Linked DNA regions of Homo sapiens: region 2 is linked to region 1. Evidence: fine-mapped expression QTL. Tissue or cell type: cerebellar hemisphere. Region 1 holds a variant in brackets; the other region holds the start of a gene. All regions are shown on one strand. Distances are from middle to middle.

Region 1 (8,000 bases):
TGGGTCTCTGGACACAGTCTTGGGGCCATGGCACAGCACTGGCACCTCTGCCCTCACCAGCCTTTCCCAGGACTGGAGGCCTTGTCTGTCGTTCAGGGTCACAGAATCTGGAGTCCTCGCTGTTCCCAGCCACACCCAGCCCAGCCTCCTGCTGGGGGCCACATTTTACCCCAATTTTTCTGCATCTCAGGACTTCACAACCATATTAGGAGTGGCAGTGAAGTCCATAACAGACTCGTAGGCTCCTTAAAAAAACTCTCCCTCCACAGCCCCCAGGACTTCCTGGTCACTGCCCGCTCTGAGATCAGGGAAGCCGTGGGGCCTCTCCCTGCCAGCTTCCATCCATGCCCCAAGGATGGGCTACTCACCCCTAATTCCTGTCCCTCCCCTGCAAATGGAGAACACTGGAAAATTACTCATCGCAGTCATTATTTGTGAGCAAGAATGAGATACTTCATTTAAAGCGGTGAATGCAGTACCTCGGCAATCACCAAAAAACAAAAAATAAAAATGGAGTCACAATATAAAGAACCTCAGGAAAAAGTGATTTTGCATCTTCCCAGAATAAATCAGTCACTCTATCACCTGGAACATGCTAGATGTTCAGCCAATGGTTTGTAAATTAATTACTTTGTTATTTTATTTCATATTTAGTAGGACCTGGTTGTATAAAACCAGAGTAAAACATGTTAGAAGTCAAGAGCTAGTTCTGAGCAAGTTGTGATACATGAGAGCTATTCAACAAAATATTTAAAACTTTGTAACATGTTTTTTAATTTTAAAAATCACATTTAAAAAGCCATCAGGAATGCAGTAGCCACAGCTTTTGCTAAAACAGTTTTTAAAAATTATTTTTCCATATCTGGGAGATTTGACCTTTTCGTTTTGCTTAAACTTTTGGTTGACACATCACGAGTGCACAGGACAGCAGCTGACAACTGCCCCGCGTGCTGGGCACATGCTTCTGCCTGCTCCAATATTTCAAAGCTGACTTATTGTTTGCTTGAAATGTGAATGAGTTACTGAAAAAATATTATGTGTCTCACAGTATTTCTATTTTACAGCCTTTAATAGTTGTTTTGCAGCTTTAAATCTGTTTGGAAAATGATGCCCAATGACTGTGTGTGGGTTTATGTCACCTGTGCTCACAGACATGTGAAGCAAAAACCTTGGCCTGCTCCCCAGCCTCTGTGCAGGACAAGCCAAAGAGCAGGCAGCGGCAGGGCCAAGAGGATCCAGGCTCCCCCTGGACCACACACGGTCACCGTAAGCACATGGTGCTCCGGGGGGTCCTGCTTGGTGGGTGGCTCACCCTTATGTGTCAGGCACCCATTTTATAGATCAAAACGTAGAGGTCTGGAAGTCTCAGAAGCAGCAAGGCTGTGGCCGCTCAGTCTCACAGTCTCACGTCCCAGGTCTTTACAGAGAACCAACACACATCCTCATACTTGAAGCTCGATGATAAGTACTCAGCGAAAAGTATCAGGCCAGTGCCGTGACTCACATCTGCAATCCCAACACAGTATCATCAGGCCAGTGCCGTGACTCACATCTGCAATCCCAACACAGTATCAGGCCAGTGCCGTGACTCACATCTGCAATCCCAACACAGTATCATCAGGCCAGTGCCGTGACTCACATCTGCAATCCCAACACAGTATCAGGCCAGTGCCGTGACTCACATCTGCAATCCCAACACAGTATCAGGCCAGTGCCGTGACTCACATCTGCAATCCCAACACAGTATCATCAGGCCAGTGCCGTGACTCACATCTGCAGTCCCAACACAGTATCAGGCCAGTGCCGTGACTCACATCTGCAATCCCAACACAGTATCAGGCCAGTGCCGTGACTCACATCTGCAATCCCAACACAGTATCATCAGGCCAGTGCCGTGACTCACATCTGCAATCCCAACACAGTATCAGGCCAGTGCCGTGACTCACATCTGCAATCCCAACACAGTATCAGGCCAGTGCCGTGACTCACATCTGCAATCCCAACACAGTATCATCAGGCCAGTGCCGTGACTCACATCTGCAATCCCAACACAGTATCAGGCCAGTGCCGTGACTCACATCTGCAATCCCAACACAGTATCATCAGGCCAGTGCCGTGACTCACATCTGCAATCCCAACACAGTATCAGGCCAGTGCCGTGACTCACATCTGCAATCCCAACACAGTATCAGGCCAGTGCCGTGACTCACATCTGCAATCCCAACACAGTATCATCAGGCCAGTGCCGTGACTCACATCTGCAATCCCAACACAGTATTAGGCCAGTGCCGTGACTCACATCTGCAATCCCAACACAGTATCAGGCCAGTGCCATGACTCACATCTGCAATCCCAACACTTTGGGAGGCCGAGGCGGGAAGATCACTTGAGGCTAGGAGTTCAAGACCAGCCTGACCAACATGGCAAAACCCCATCTCTACTAAAAATACAAAAAAAAATTAGCTGGGCGTGGTGGTGCCCACCTGTCATCCCAGCTACTCGGGAGGCTGAGGCACGAGAATCAGTTGAACCCAGGAGGTGGAGGTTGCAGAGTCGAGATCACACCACTGCACTCCAGTCTAGGTGACAGAGTGAGAATCCATCTCAAAAAAAAAAAAAAAAGAGAGAGAGAGAAAAAAAGAAAAGCATCAGTCCTGGATAGAGTTTAGGTTGTATCAACTTGCCTGCAAACTGTAGGAAGGTGAGAATAAGAAGGGAAAGATCTTGGCTGGTGCTCAGACTGGGTGGGTGCAGGAGAGACTCTTGTTCCAGAGCAGGATCCCCTAGGGTCAAAGCACAAAGAGAAATAAACTTCAGCACCTGAAAATTCTGTAATAAGAGTCTTTGAAAATGGAAAAAAAATCTATGCTTGACCATTGTTGTCTAAGAGAAGTTTGCTATCAATCCCTCCTCTAACGCCCTGAACAGAATGTTCTTCACCAGAACCCTGTGTATTCATCACCACACAGGCTGAGAGGCATTCCAGCATTTGTGCAACATCAAGATTTATGTGCAATTATCTTTATGGCAAATGTTCCACAAGTTATAGCTGTTAAAAGAAAATAAGATGCAAATGAACAAGAAGAAGCAGAGGCGCTGCCTGCAGCCTGGGAAAATTTGGGAAGCTAGCCTAATGAGTGAATTTGTTTTAAAAGGAAAGTTGGCAAACCTTATTCCAGTTCATTAAATTTCAACAAACAGCAAGGATTAAAGTAAGAATCAACACACAACTCTAAACAGGAATCAAGCGCTTAGAATTAGGAGCAAAGCTCTGGCCCTGGGGGCTTATGGTTTTGGAGAAGAAAGATTTTGGCTTTCATATATATATTTAACATAAACAGCCTTTGGAACAAGGCAACTTCCTTCTTCTTTCTGAAATGTGGTATGTTCTTGCCTAATGTGTCCCTGAATTCCACCTCTTTTATGAACAATATGAATATGCATAAAGGAGAATTTGGGGGAACCGTGCCATGCGCCCCTCAGAGCAGGAGCAATCTTGAGAAGGCGCAGGCAGAGAGCAGCGGGCGGCTTCTCCAGAGCAAGTAATTAAGTCCCGTGACTCCCTAGAACTCAGTGTTCAGTTCTGAAAAAAAACTTCGGGTTCAAACTCCCTAAGTCTATGGTCCTTGCATCAGACGCCTCTTCCCTGGGATTGCTGGGAACTGAGGAAGGAAGGGCGCTGCAGAGCTAACGATAGCAAGGGGCTCAGAGCTGGCCACCCCAGCTCCCTGGTGGCAGGAGAGCTAATGTGAGCTGATGGAAACTGAGAAGCAGCAGATAAAGGAAAAGCCATCTGCCCTGCCTCTATTGCCTAAAAGTAGAACATAAATCCGCAAAAGTGACCATTTCCCTCTCCAACAGAAAGGACAGAAATTCATCACCAGGGACCCCAGGCCCTCAACAGCCTGGAACCAGCCCCAGAGGCATTTGTGTGGCAAACCTCTGCAGCCCCGGCCTCCCTTCCTGTAGTTGCCCCAGAGAGGCCTCCTCAAAACGTGTTTCCTGGGAACTCAAAGTCCTTTGCTTTGGTCTTGCAGCTTCTTGGAAAATGATTGTTCTTTTGCTGAGGGGCTGTGCAGCAGAGTTCTAACGATCCATTCGAGTTTCCATCTTGGGGCGCTCAGGGGGCTCCCTCGTGGAAGCAGGAGTCCAGGCTAATAACCCCTGTGAGTTTTCCTCCTGTGACTCTGCCTTTTGTCAGTCTAATTTCAATGCCCCAGAAAATTAATCTAAGATGCAGGGAGAGAAAAGGTTTCTTCTTCCCCTACAGATGGATGTCAGTCATCTCTATTCAGCCAAGAAGTAGTTAACCTAAACAATGAAAACACCACCGGTTCCAGTAGAGACTTGAGACTATCTGATGAGA[G/C]TTATGTGTCTCTGGGAGGAAGTTTTCAATACAGAAATGGATTTATTTTATGAAACTTAAAAGACTAATAATCTGCAAGCCTATAAGAATGTTTTAATTCTGTAAAATATTTTACAATAAGAAAAGAAACTAGAGACTAAGCAACATATGATCAGTTAAACTTGAATAACAATATATTAATATTGGTCAATAACAAGGAATGATCTCTCTAGTAACTGCCGTTTCCAAGCATAGTAGAGAAGGATAAGCATGTTTCTTTATATTTAATCAGTTGGTTCTTAAATAATTGTCAAGTGCCTGCTGAAAACCAGCCTTTGGTCTTGGTCGTGAATAGCGCAGAACTTTGCAGAGCCCTGAAGAGACTCTCAGTGATAGGATGCATATACACAGGTGGTGTGAGTGACAGAGCTAATTTTTTTTCTGGTACCTAAAGATCAGCAGGATCAAAATTTCATAAAGGAAGAGCTGGGAGCTTGAGATTGACAATTTCATGAGATGAAGGATAAATTGTGCGTTACCTCCACAGCTCTGCAACATGGAGATTGGTCTTGGGCAGGTGGTGGACGTCCTGGATTCTGAGGAAGACCTGCACGCAATTCAGTGGGCATCAGGAGCCTTCAGATGCTTTCATCAAAGGCACAGGCACAAGCAGGCCTTGGTTTAGAAAGGTCACTTGGGTGACAGCAGGAGGGACAGAAGGATGGTGGGGAGATCAGTGCAGGAGCCAGTCAAGAGCTCCTTCTACTAAGGCAGTAGAAAGTGAGACTGACAACGGCCAGGCAGGAGCAGAACGTTCTCCCAGAGACATTATGGGGAAATTCACACCACATGGTGAGTGAAAGGCAAGGAAAGCCACGGCTGGGCTTCTTGCTTGGGGACTTGAGCTGGTAGGGTGGTTATTTCAGGCTGTTAACACCCCTCAACAGGGAACAGAGGAGGATGGCGTGACTCAGGAGAGAAGTTCAAGTGGAAAACGGGCGTTTGGGAGAGGACCAAAGGAGGGTGAGAGGAGAGGGCAAAGATCAGAGGAGCCAGAAATGCACCCGAGGTGACACTCACAGGAGGGAGACCATGGAGAGAAGAGAGCCACAGTGACCGAGGCTGAGAGAGAGAGTGGCCAGAGACTGAAAGCAAAAGGCACGACGGCCGGGAGCACTGAACGCTTGCCAGGCCCTGGACCAAAAGCCGTGCAAACCTCTCTGTAAAACCATCCTAAGACGTAACTCTGTGCACTTGCCAGGCCCTCAGCCCAGAGCCGTGCAAACTTCTCTCTTCAGAGCACACTTGCGAGGCCCTCGGCCAAGAGCTGTGCAAACTTCTCTCTAAAACCATCCTAAGATGTAACTCTGCAGCTAGGAGAGAAAACCGCGCCAGGTGAAGTGAGCTGCCGCGTCACTCGGAGATTGATTTGTCTCACTCCAGAGCCCATGGCCGTCACCCCTCTGCCACTTAAGAATGCCGGCAACATCCCAAAAGCACCAGAGTCCTGGGGAGGTGGGGGGCGGGGCTGGTTACTGCATTTGGCAAATAAGCGGTCGTGACTGACCACAGAATACAAAATGTGAGTTGAGTTGCCTGGGCAGTTGCAGTGGGTTTAGAAGGAAATAAGAGGAAAATAAAGGAAAATTCCAGGTGTCTTATATCTCAAGCTTTTGTGGGAACAGGAGGTTCCCTGATTCTTGAGAGCTGAAAGAAATCTCCATAAAGCCCGGAATGCTGGTCCTTGAGGTCCACACCTGCCACCGATCCTGCGACGCCCAGGCCGCCCCTCCCCTCTCGGCTCCTACTCACTCTTGGTGGCATCGTCCCACATTGCACTGTCCCCAGCACGCACACATTGGCGTAAAGCCAGGTCCCCTCTTCAGATTCCACACCCAGAGCCTGCAGCTCTGACGGCTGTGCTGGGGGTCCCCGGCGAGCTGTGAGCCCGTGCTAGGTGTTCCTCCCTCCCTCCTGCCCTTGCCCCAGGGAGCCCCACACCGGGGGGCTCTGTTCATTGCTCTCTGCCCAACCCTGAGGGGTCACCCTCTGCCCCAAGTGCTTAACCACTGGTTACTCATCCCAGAACCCAAGAGAGATCCAGCACGGAGGTTTTCTTAACTTTGCTGTATCACACTGTAAGAAACTGGGTGGCCAATGGAACAGACGGAGCAGGGCAGAGTGAGCAGGAAGAAATGATGCTGGGGAATTTGTGTGCTCCTTGGGTGGGGACGAGCATGGAAGGCGCGTGGGACTGAAGCCTTGAAGACCCCGCAGGCGCCTCTCCTGGACAGACCTCGTGCAGGCGCCTCTCCTGGACCGACCTCGTGCAGGCGCCGCGCTGGACCGACCTCGTGCAGGCGCCGCGCTGGGCCATGGGGAGAGCGAGAGCCTGGTGTGCCCCTCAGGGACTTCTATTTGCTTTTAGGAGCCAATTCATTCCTTTGGTGAAGTATTGATGCTACGCAGGTGAATTTAGTAACAGGACTGACGTGTGAACATGGCCGGAAACACTTGCCGTCTTCCTGTTACCGCGTCCGGAACTTCACGGTGATACCCAGAAATGGGATCTTAACCTCTTACACATTCCAGGTGCTAAAACAAATAACACAGGAGTGCTTTCATTGGAAACTACTGGTATAGTGGAATTATTTTATCTTTTATTAAATACACAAGATAGGCAAATCTTATCAACTTTACCACTGGCTCAGGTAACCAGTGATGAATGTTCAGAACAAAAGTTATTCGGAATCATTTGAAGTGGTTTGGGCAAGTGCGAAATTAAGGTGAGTAGCTCTGATCCCATCCTCCAGGCAGCTCCGTGCAGTGGGGGTGGACGCCCCTCTGTAGCGGGGAAGTGAAGGCCTGTGGAGGGAAGCGACCCCGGGACCTGGCTGCCTGCCTGTCCCGGAAGCCACGTGGGCATCACCGCAGCAAGATGGGCTTGAGGAACAAAGCAACACTGTCAGTGAATCGCTGAACTGTCATTGCGCTTTGACTGTGTGACATTCTGTTCCGTAGGAAAGCCTGAGGAGTCTCGTGTCTCTAGCGTCTTGGAGGAAAGCAAGCGCCTGGTGGACACCGCCATGTACGCCACGATGCAGAGGTGAGCCTTGCGGAGGGGCCGCCGCCCCAAATGCCACCGACAGGCGCATCCTCCCTGACATCCACACACGTGTGGCCTGATTTTCGCAATTGCAGATGAAAACCTGAAGCTTGCCATTGTTAATTTACTTCCCCAGTGTCATGTGCAAGCAGCAGACAGAACTGGTATTTAATCTCCAATCCTTTCTTAAGCAAGACACAAAGGAGGAGCACCCTGATGCAATTAGCAATTACGTATACCCTGGTTAAAAGACAGTAGAGGCTGACGTCCTGATAGCAAAACCAGCCTCTCTTCTCCAGGATTAGGACAGATTAAGGAGGAAAAGAGAGACCTAGATCCCAGATCTTTGGTGTTGTGATATAACTGTAACATTACCTGTGGCATAGAATAAAGAATTAAATGGGGCTCTCCCCCATTTTTGAAATAATTAGCATTTGTAATTATATAACAGACACCACTATTAAGAATATTGTGGTCTCATATTACCTGTCTAGAAAAAGAAAAGAAAAACAAAAAACAAAAAACCTGTAAAGCAGTTTGCCCTCCCAA
Region 2 (8,143 bases), 740 kb before region 1:
GGAGGGGGAGGATGGGGGGGAAGGAGAGGAAGGAGGGGAAGGAGGAGGGCCAGGAGAAGCAGGACAGCCAGGCAGGTGAGAAGGGTAGGCTAACACAGGAGGTGGTGGGCATGGGTGCGGGGAGGAAGGTGTGGAGGGCTGACGTTACAGGGGGAAGGTGGGGAGGGTGGTAGGCACGGGAGGAAGGCGGGCAGGGAGGGTGTCACCAGGTGCTCCTCCTCAGCTATTCCTGAAATGCACCCTGGAGCAGAGTCTGAATCTTGAATCTTGATGGTGCTGGTTATAAGCTGTATAGCTGAGGGAGTTAGAGAACCTCTGCATGTTTCATTTATAAAAATGGGCAAATAAAATCCAACTCTTGGCTGGTTTGAGAAATGAATCACAGGAAATGTAATGGCAGGCAGCACAGTGTCTAGTATTACCCCGGTGTGAAAGCAGTCATCCTTCCCCTTATCCTAGAAAACATCAAACCCTTTGTGCAGTTCTCCAGCTGACAAAGCTATTCAGATCCAGGAGCTCAGCTGGTGAAGCCATCACCTTTCTTTGAGATGCCTGCCTCAGGGCCTCTGCGTGGGGCACTTGCTCCTGCCCTCTGCCAGCATCTCACTGCCTGGCTCCTGCCTATGCACCTTTTGCCCCTGGGTTCCCAGGGGACTGTGTGATTTAAATCAGGCCGCTCCTCCTGTTTCACTGTGTTTTTGGCTTTTCCATTGCAACACTTGTCACTGTTGATAACACAGGTCTGTGATGAATCACTGGTGCTGGTGTCCCCCAGGAAGCTGTGGGAGGCAAAGGAGCCCTGTCTGCCTGGTCCACTCCAGCACTCCTCAGGGCACCCTCAATACAGAGCTTGCTCTGAGCGCCTCACTTGCATAGGCCCCCACTGTGATGCAAACCCTCATCACTTCTCCAGTCTTTCTAAGATCATCTCTTCTTCAGATTTCCCGCTTTGCACACAGCCAGCTAACTAAACTTATCTGAAATTAGTTATTTTTAACTACCAAGCAAAATCTTCAGTGTCTCCCCAATGTTGAGAGTCAAGAGTAGCCTGAGCCAGGCCTCCAGGCCCTCCTCGCCTCTTCTACCCACACGTGTTCGTAACGCTCAGCATCAGAAGTGCTTAGGTCCTGGAGGGCTTGCAGTTTCTCTGCCTCTGATCCACACCTTCCATCTATCTCAGTCTCTGCATGTCGGGCTGCTGCCCTCCCAGGGCCGTCACCTGCTCCCTCTCTTTTCTTATTAACATTTTACTCACTCTTCACACCCTGTGCCATGATTTCAGCTTTTCTGAATAATCTTTCTCAGTCATCCTGTGCAACTCCCTAACTTCTCTAAGTTCTGTAGCCCTTATCCTTGAAACCAAGTTGGGCAATGCCTTATTTTATGCACAGAACTTTTCTTTCCCAGTTTGCAATCTTCCTCCCATTCAAAGCAGTGCATGAGCACAGCTGCCACCAAGGACGCATCTTGTGTAAAAGACAGCACTTCCGGAAACCCAACTCTCCTGTGTGCAGCTGGTGCTCAGCACCTCCCTGGTAGGCAACAGGAACTCAACAGATTCCTCTCAACTCTAACATCCAAAAAGTAGTTTTCTTTATAGCTTCCAAGAGTGAAAAACGGGAGTGCCCTGGGAGCAGGCACATGACAGAGGGTTGGGAGGTCTTGTAAAAATATGTATATATTTCGAAGACACAGACAGAACATACACAGTTTCATTTCACACAGTGATCTGAGTTGTGGAGTTTGTGTTGTTTTACTCACCTAGACACAGAAAGTGCCCGATCTGTAGTCTGTAGCTTCGGGAGGACAAGCAGGTGAGGAGCACGCAGAGCGCGTGGAAGGTGGCCAGCCCCATGAGCCAGGGCTCAGTCCAGTCCGTCTGCTGTAGGAACACACCAGCAGACACTCACTGTCCTGCCACTCAAGGCCGGGTTCACGGCCCACCCACAGCCTTCTCCCAGCGCAGGAGGCAGGGGCCTCTCACTCCTGAGTCCTCCTGGGCTACTCACCAAGTATCCAGAGAGCATTGCCAGGCCTCAGAGAAACATGGGGACAGGAAAGGGAGAAGGAACCAGGAGGATGGAAACAGGATTCTCCCCTCAGTGCAACTATAATTCATGGAATTCAAAGTTCAAGCACACAGAACTGAAGGCATCTCTGATGTGCTCCTTTCGTTTGTGGAACAGAATCATGTTTTTAAGGTGGGTATAATTAAAGGAATTACCATCCTTTACGATGATAATTGGTTATGATAATTGGTGACGACAAGGAAATTAAGACGATTGCTCAAAGAGATGCACTTGGCTCAGCCCCAAAGGTAAAACATGAATCATCATTTCAGACTCCTTAGTCAGCACTGAAGACCTCAGGGAATCTTGAGCCATCGCCACGTGCAAGACTTGATTTTCTCCAACCTCTCTGCAATACACTGAACTCTCCAGACAGTGCCGCACTCCGCCGCCTCCTGGACTCCCCGGGACCCTGCTGTACCTGGGGACAGTGTCTGGCTCAGGGACCTGAAGTAGCCAGGCTCAGATCCACTGCTGCTCAGTCCCCACCTGATGCTCAGATGCCAATCCCAGCAGTCCTCAACCCTCCCCATCCCCTCCTTGAGCGCCCTCCTGCAGAAGACAAGCCCTGCCCTCCAAGCTGCAGCCCCGCCCTGCCCTCCAAGCTGCAGCCCCGCCCTGCCCTCCAAGCTGCAGCCCGGCACAGCCCTCCAGAACTCCTGTGTCACTACTCTCTGCTGGGGACCGCAGCGGCTTCTCCAGAGCCGCGCCATGACATAAGGACACAAGCGCATCTACTCCCATCAATGCACCCACCAGAAGACCAGAGGCACGGAGGTGAGGGGAGCACGGCTTTCTGCCCAGACCCCATCGAGTGCCCATGTCACCCCTTGGCGGCCACGTGGGGCGTGGGCTCCCCTGGGATCTGTCAGACGAACCCGGCACGGCGCACGCCCCGCCCACACTGGGCAGCGTTCCTCCGTGCCACCCCACACGATCAGGCTCCACCACGCACGCCCCGCCGCACTGCCAGAATCCGCCCACATGGCCCAAGCCCCGCCCGCAAGACGCTGGACTGGCCGGCGTGCACCTCCCACACGAACAAAGCCCTACCCCTCGCGCTCCGCCCACACAACTCAGCCACGCCCGCACGGTGCAGGACGCCAGCCCAGCCCAAGCCCGGGCCACAGAGCGCCGGAGCCAGCTCACTGCGCACGCTCCTCCACAAGGCCCCGCCCGGCCCCGCCCCTCCCCGCCCAACGGCCCAGGACCCCGCCTAGCGCTCGCGCCCCGACGCCCGGCCCCGGCCCCCTCCCACAGGGCCCAGGACCCCGCCCACAGCGCGCGCCCCCGACGCCGGCCCCGAGCCACTCCCACAGGTCTCAGGACCCTGCCCAGCGCGCGCGCTCCGCCACAAGGCCCCGCCCACGGCCGGGGCCTTCTTGGCCACAGGCCGGGTGCTCTGTGGGGCCTACCCTACGCCTCTCCGCCGTCCTCCCCCGAACTGGTGGTTACGCGGGCCGCGAGTTACCGTGAGCACGGCTGGGATGCTGACGGGGAAAGAGCTGACAGAGAAGGCGGACGGCATGGTGTTGGGAAGCCCGCTCTCACAGCAACCGCCGAACCCGGCCTGGCCAGAATCCACAGAGGAGGGCGCCAAATCCTCTCTCGTGAGATCTGCCCTTCTCACGAAACTTGCGCTTGCTTCCTCTCGCGGTAATTTCATGGCATTGCTAGGTCCAGATATCGCGATATTTCCTGGTGGTCGCTGTAATACGGAAAACTTACTACGCTGCTGTGGGACTTGTGCTCGCTCCGCCAGGAGGCCGAGGGCGTCTTTAGTTCGTTAACAGAGGAGCAGGCGGAGGCGGGTGGAATTTAGGAGGTTTGTTTCAAAGGCTCAGGGCGCTGTACCGCCACGCCAGCCCTGTCCCACCTGGGACTCCCTAGAAGGGTCAGAGCATCAATGAGGACGGTGTCCGCCCCGAGACCCTGCAGGAGCCGGGGACATTGCCCACTCCTCGGACCCTGCAGGACTTGGGAAGGTGTCTGCTCTCGCGACCCTAAGGGCAGTGCACTCTTAGTCTGGGTCAGCTTAGGGTTATCTGTCTTCACTTTGGAGATTTACCAGATGTTCTTACGCTTCACTTCGTTGTTCAACGACAGATACAAAAATATAAAGTTAATTTTCTTCCAGCGAATTTTTTCCCTTTATTTTAACATCTATACCCCAACTTTGACATTTTCAAATTAAACATTCTGTTATTTTAACATCATGAATTATTAAGTGTATATACTTTAATTGCATATGTTAGCTCTTGAACTAGTTTAATGTTTCTAAAAATAGTTCTAGTGGTGGACTTTTTTTTTTTTTTAATAGCTTTAACCCCTCCCAGATCTTTCTTAAAATCTTTCCACAGTGTGGTCATTTCTGCTTATGCTACTTAACATGCATTCTCTCATTTCAGTGTAGAAGGTCATGGTTTCTTCTTATGGGAAAACATTTCTTTCATTGATATTTTTCTCTATTCTTCCTGTATTCAACTCCAGGAACATCCCGTTAGGTAGATAGTGCATCTTCCTCTCTTTTGTGTTTCTCAACCTTCCTCTCAAAACATCACGACTGTTGTTGCTGAGTTTGGGAAATCTCGGGCTTGGCTTTCCTGGTTTTTTTTTTTTTTTTTTAAGACGATGTCTCGCTCTGTCGCCCAGGCTGGAGCACAATGGTGGGACCTCGGCTCACTGCAACCTCCGCCTCCTGGGTTCAAGCTATTCTCCTGCCTCAGCCTCCCGAGTAGCTGGGATTACAGGTGTTCGCCACCTCACCTGGCTAATTTTTTTTGTATTTTTAGTAGAGACGGGGTTTCACCATGTTGGCCAGGCTAGTTTTGAACTCCTGACCTCAAGTGATTTACCCGCCTGGGCCTCCCAAAGTGCTGGGATTACAGGCATGAGCCACCGCACCCAGCTGGTGTGATGGTTTTCATCTGTGTCCATTCTCACTCCCCTGTGTTTGTTCAGCTATTTTCAACAGGACCTTTCAGTTACAGGGAATAGATCTGTCCTCTTCAGTTCAGCCTGTTACTGTGTATCTCCCTGATGATATTTCGTTACTATGTGAAACATCACTCTTATTAATTTCCATGGGTTAGTTTCATCGTCAGTCCTGTCTGGTGCCTGCCTTTCTTTTGTGGTGTCTGTTTTCTTGTAACTTCTGTAATTTGGGGTCAAACTCTTTTTGCTATTAATATTAACCACAGCCTATCTACGGTCACTGGGATTTTTTCTCTTCATCTTCCCCTCAGCCGCCCTCCCAGATCTTTCATATATTGTGCGCCCTGGCACCCAAGTTTCCAAAATTGTTAAAACTCTGGCCCTCAGCAGCTTCACTTTCAGTCCCAGGACATTCATCTTCCACATTCCTCCCGCCCTGCCGTTCTGAACAACGCTAGGCTGCCGGACATTTAGACGTGAAGCTTGTGCAATGTCGCCAGTCTGAGATGTGCTTTAATTTCAAACATACACCATCTTTCAAAGACTTTGTACCAAAATGTAAAATACATTATCAACAATTGTATTATTTTGCTTACATGTTGAAATTATATTTTGGACATACTGGACCAAATAAAATATATCAATAAAATTAATCTCTTTCTCTTTGCTATTTTAATGTGGCCAGTAGAACATGGCCTGCTCTCTCTGTTGGTATGTGAATGCTGACATGGACTCTATTCCATTTACCTGGAATTTTGTGCTTCCAGAAAAGACTGGATGAAGCCCCTCCCCTCCCTTCCCCTTCCCTCGCCACCCTTCTCTTCTCTTCCCTTTCCTTTTTTTTTTTTTTTTTTTTTTTTTTTTGCGTTTTGCTCTTGTTGCCTAGGCTGGAGTGCAGTGGCAGGGTCTCGGCTCACTGCAACCTCTGCCTCCTGGGTTCAAGCGATTCTCCCTGCCTCAGCCTTCCGAGTAGCTGGGATCACCGGCGTGTGCCACCATGCCAGGCTAATTTTGTATTTTTAGTAGACACGGGGTTTCACCATGTTGGCCAGGCTGGTCTCGAACTCCTGACATCAGATGATCCGCCTGCCTTGGCCTCCCAAAGTGCTGGGATTACAGGCGTGAGCCACCACGCCTGGCCCAATTTTGTTTATTTCTAAAATAGCTATTTAATCCACATACAATTGGTTTTCAAGAGCTTTATTAATGGGTAAAATAAGTTTGTGAGCTGTAATGTTTTCTACAAATTAAAGCCAGTACTTGATAGCTTTCTTGTTCTTTGCATTGCTCAGGTCCCAGCAGGCAGCTGATTGTTTAGATGGAGAGACCACAGGGGAGAGTTACCTGTTGCTGTGGGAGCAATGAGGAGTTATGGAGGAAAGGAGAGGTACCAAGACCAGGTCTGTGCCCTGTGACCCAGAGGCAGCCTTGGGAGGGGCGTCTGTCTAGGAAGAGCCACAGCCAGGCTGACATGGGCAGGACCCCCTGGACCTGGCCTCCATAGCCCCATGCCAGCCGGGGTGCCAGGTGCAGACCCCTGGCCTGGTGACAGCTCAGACAGTGCCAGAAAGCCCAGGAGGGTCGGACCCTAGGGGACGGCAGGGTGCATCTCAGGAAAGGTTTAAACACTGTAGCACACCCAAAGAATGGTGTGAGCCCAGAGGTTTCATTCCTGAAGACATCATGGCCAATAACTGAGATCCCTGAGAGCTGGACTCTGGGCGCCCTCAGTTTCGATGTCTTGGATGCGAATCAGGCCACAGAAGTGCCCTTATCTCCACCACTGTGTTCTCCATTTATCCCCATTGAACTTGCCAAGCTCAGCAACATCCTGCAGGACACCAACCTCACGGGCTGGGTCTACGACCCCGGGCAGCTTCTGTGCGGGTTCCTGGTTCCTCCCTTTGTGTCTCTGGGCTGCACCAGTTTGACCCTGATGTGAAATCTGATGCCTCTGTCAGTTTGTACAATGCGGTTTACAATAAAGCATTTGACAGCAATGCTTAATTTACCATTTCCAAAGCTCTCATTCCTTTCTGAGCATTTTCAGGTGGTATCATTTCCTCTCAGACTAAAGAATTGCCATAAGCATCCCATGCAGTTCAGATCTGTCGGGGATGAATCGACTTCATCTGAAAAATGCTCTTGTTTTGTCTTCATTTTAAAGGATATTTTTTCTGTGAATTGTTGAATACTGCTTTTCTTTCTTTTCTTTGACCACATGAGAGATATTCCACAGCCTTCTGTCTGCCATAGTTTCTTGTAGAAAAGCAGTGATGTTTCTAATCCTCATTTTCCCATAGATAACATGTCATTTTTCTGTTTTCAGAATATTCTGTTTATCTTGGTTTCAGCAGTTTGACCACGATGTGCCTAGAATTAGTTTTCTTTGTATTCATGTTGCTTGTGTTTGATAAATTTCTTGATTCTGTGAATTTATATTGTTAATTTTTAGCATTATTTCTTCATTTTTTCTCTCTCATTCTTTTTCTTCTCTTTATTAGATGAGGACTGAACATTAGACTTCCCATGATTGCAGAACTGTCCTTCGCTGCAGCTGTAAAATCGCGGCAAGGCAGGATTCATCCTGGTGGTGGGTGCAGGCCCTGATTCCCGTCACTGAGCAGGGATACAGCAGGAAGCTCCACCTCTGAGCACAGCAAGGGGATTGTTCTGATTCTGAGTGTGTCTGTTTGCTAGAGCGGTGGCCACACTTCCCCGGTTCTGCAATTGTGGATAATTTAGCATGACTTGTTGGGCATTGCAAATATCATGTCGTGGAGAGTCTGGGCTCTGTTATTTTTTCCAGCTGTGTGTGTGTGTGTGTGTGTGTGTGTGTGTGCATGCACGCGCACGCGTGTGTGTGATGAGACCATTAAGTTGGTTTGACAGACTGCAAACTGCCTGTTGAACAGCAGCTGAATTCTTAATTTGGTTCTTTTATCCTTCTTGTGTTTCGTGGAGTTTGCCTCACACATTCAGCGTTCGGATGTCAACTGGAGTTCTGGATGGAAGTTATACACAGAATTTGGGGTTCTCCATCTCTGATTCTCTCCTTCCTTCTCAATTTTTAGCAGGCATATTCCCAATTTCTTCAGGAGGGAAAGACCAAGGGTTTCCTGTTGGTGTTTTGGCAACTC

What was found. PIP is the estimated chance that this variant, and not a neighbour inherited with it, causes the effect.
Region 2: TMEM18 starts here. The variant in region 1 is fine-mapped to the expression of TMEM18 in cerebellar hemisphere (GTEx, PIP 0.98).

Annotation. Positions count from the first base shown.
Region 1 is chr2:1,415,679-1,423,678 of GRCh38, forward strand. TPO (thyroid peroxidase) reads left to right here. Exons shown (of 17, transcript NM_001206744.2): 3 at 7,367-7,451. Among named protein-coding and RNA genes, the nearest start is that of TPO, 6.2 kb to the left of the region's middle. RefSeq lists an enhancer at 1,622-2,821. The variant G/C (reference allele first, on the strand shown) is at 4,367.
Region 2 is chr2:673,749-681,891 of GRCh38, forward strand. It overlaps TMEM18 (transmembrane protein 18), which reads right to left and starts at 3,658. Exons shown (of 5, transcript NM_152834.4): 1 at 3,541-3,658; 2 at 1,762-1,882. The coding sequence starts at 3,597. TMEM18-DT (TMEM18 divergent transcript) reads left to right here and starts at 3,624. Exons shown (of 3, transcript NR_183417.1): 1 at 3,624-3,725; 2 at 6,296-6,403; 3 at 7,508-8,143. RefSeq lists enhancers at 145-646, 647-1,146, 2,933-3,698, 3,601-3,700, 3,731-3,800 and a silencer at 3,191-3,440.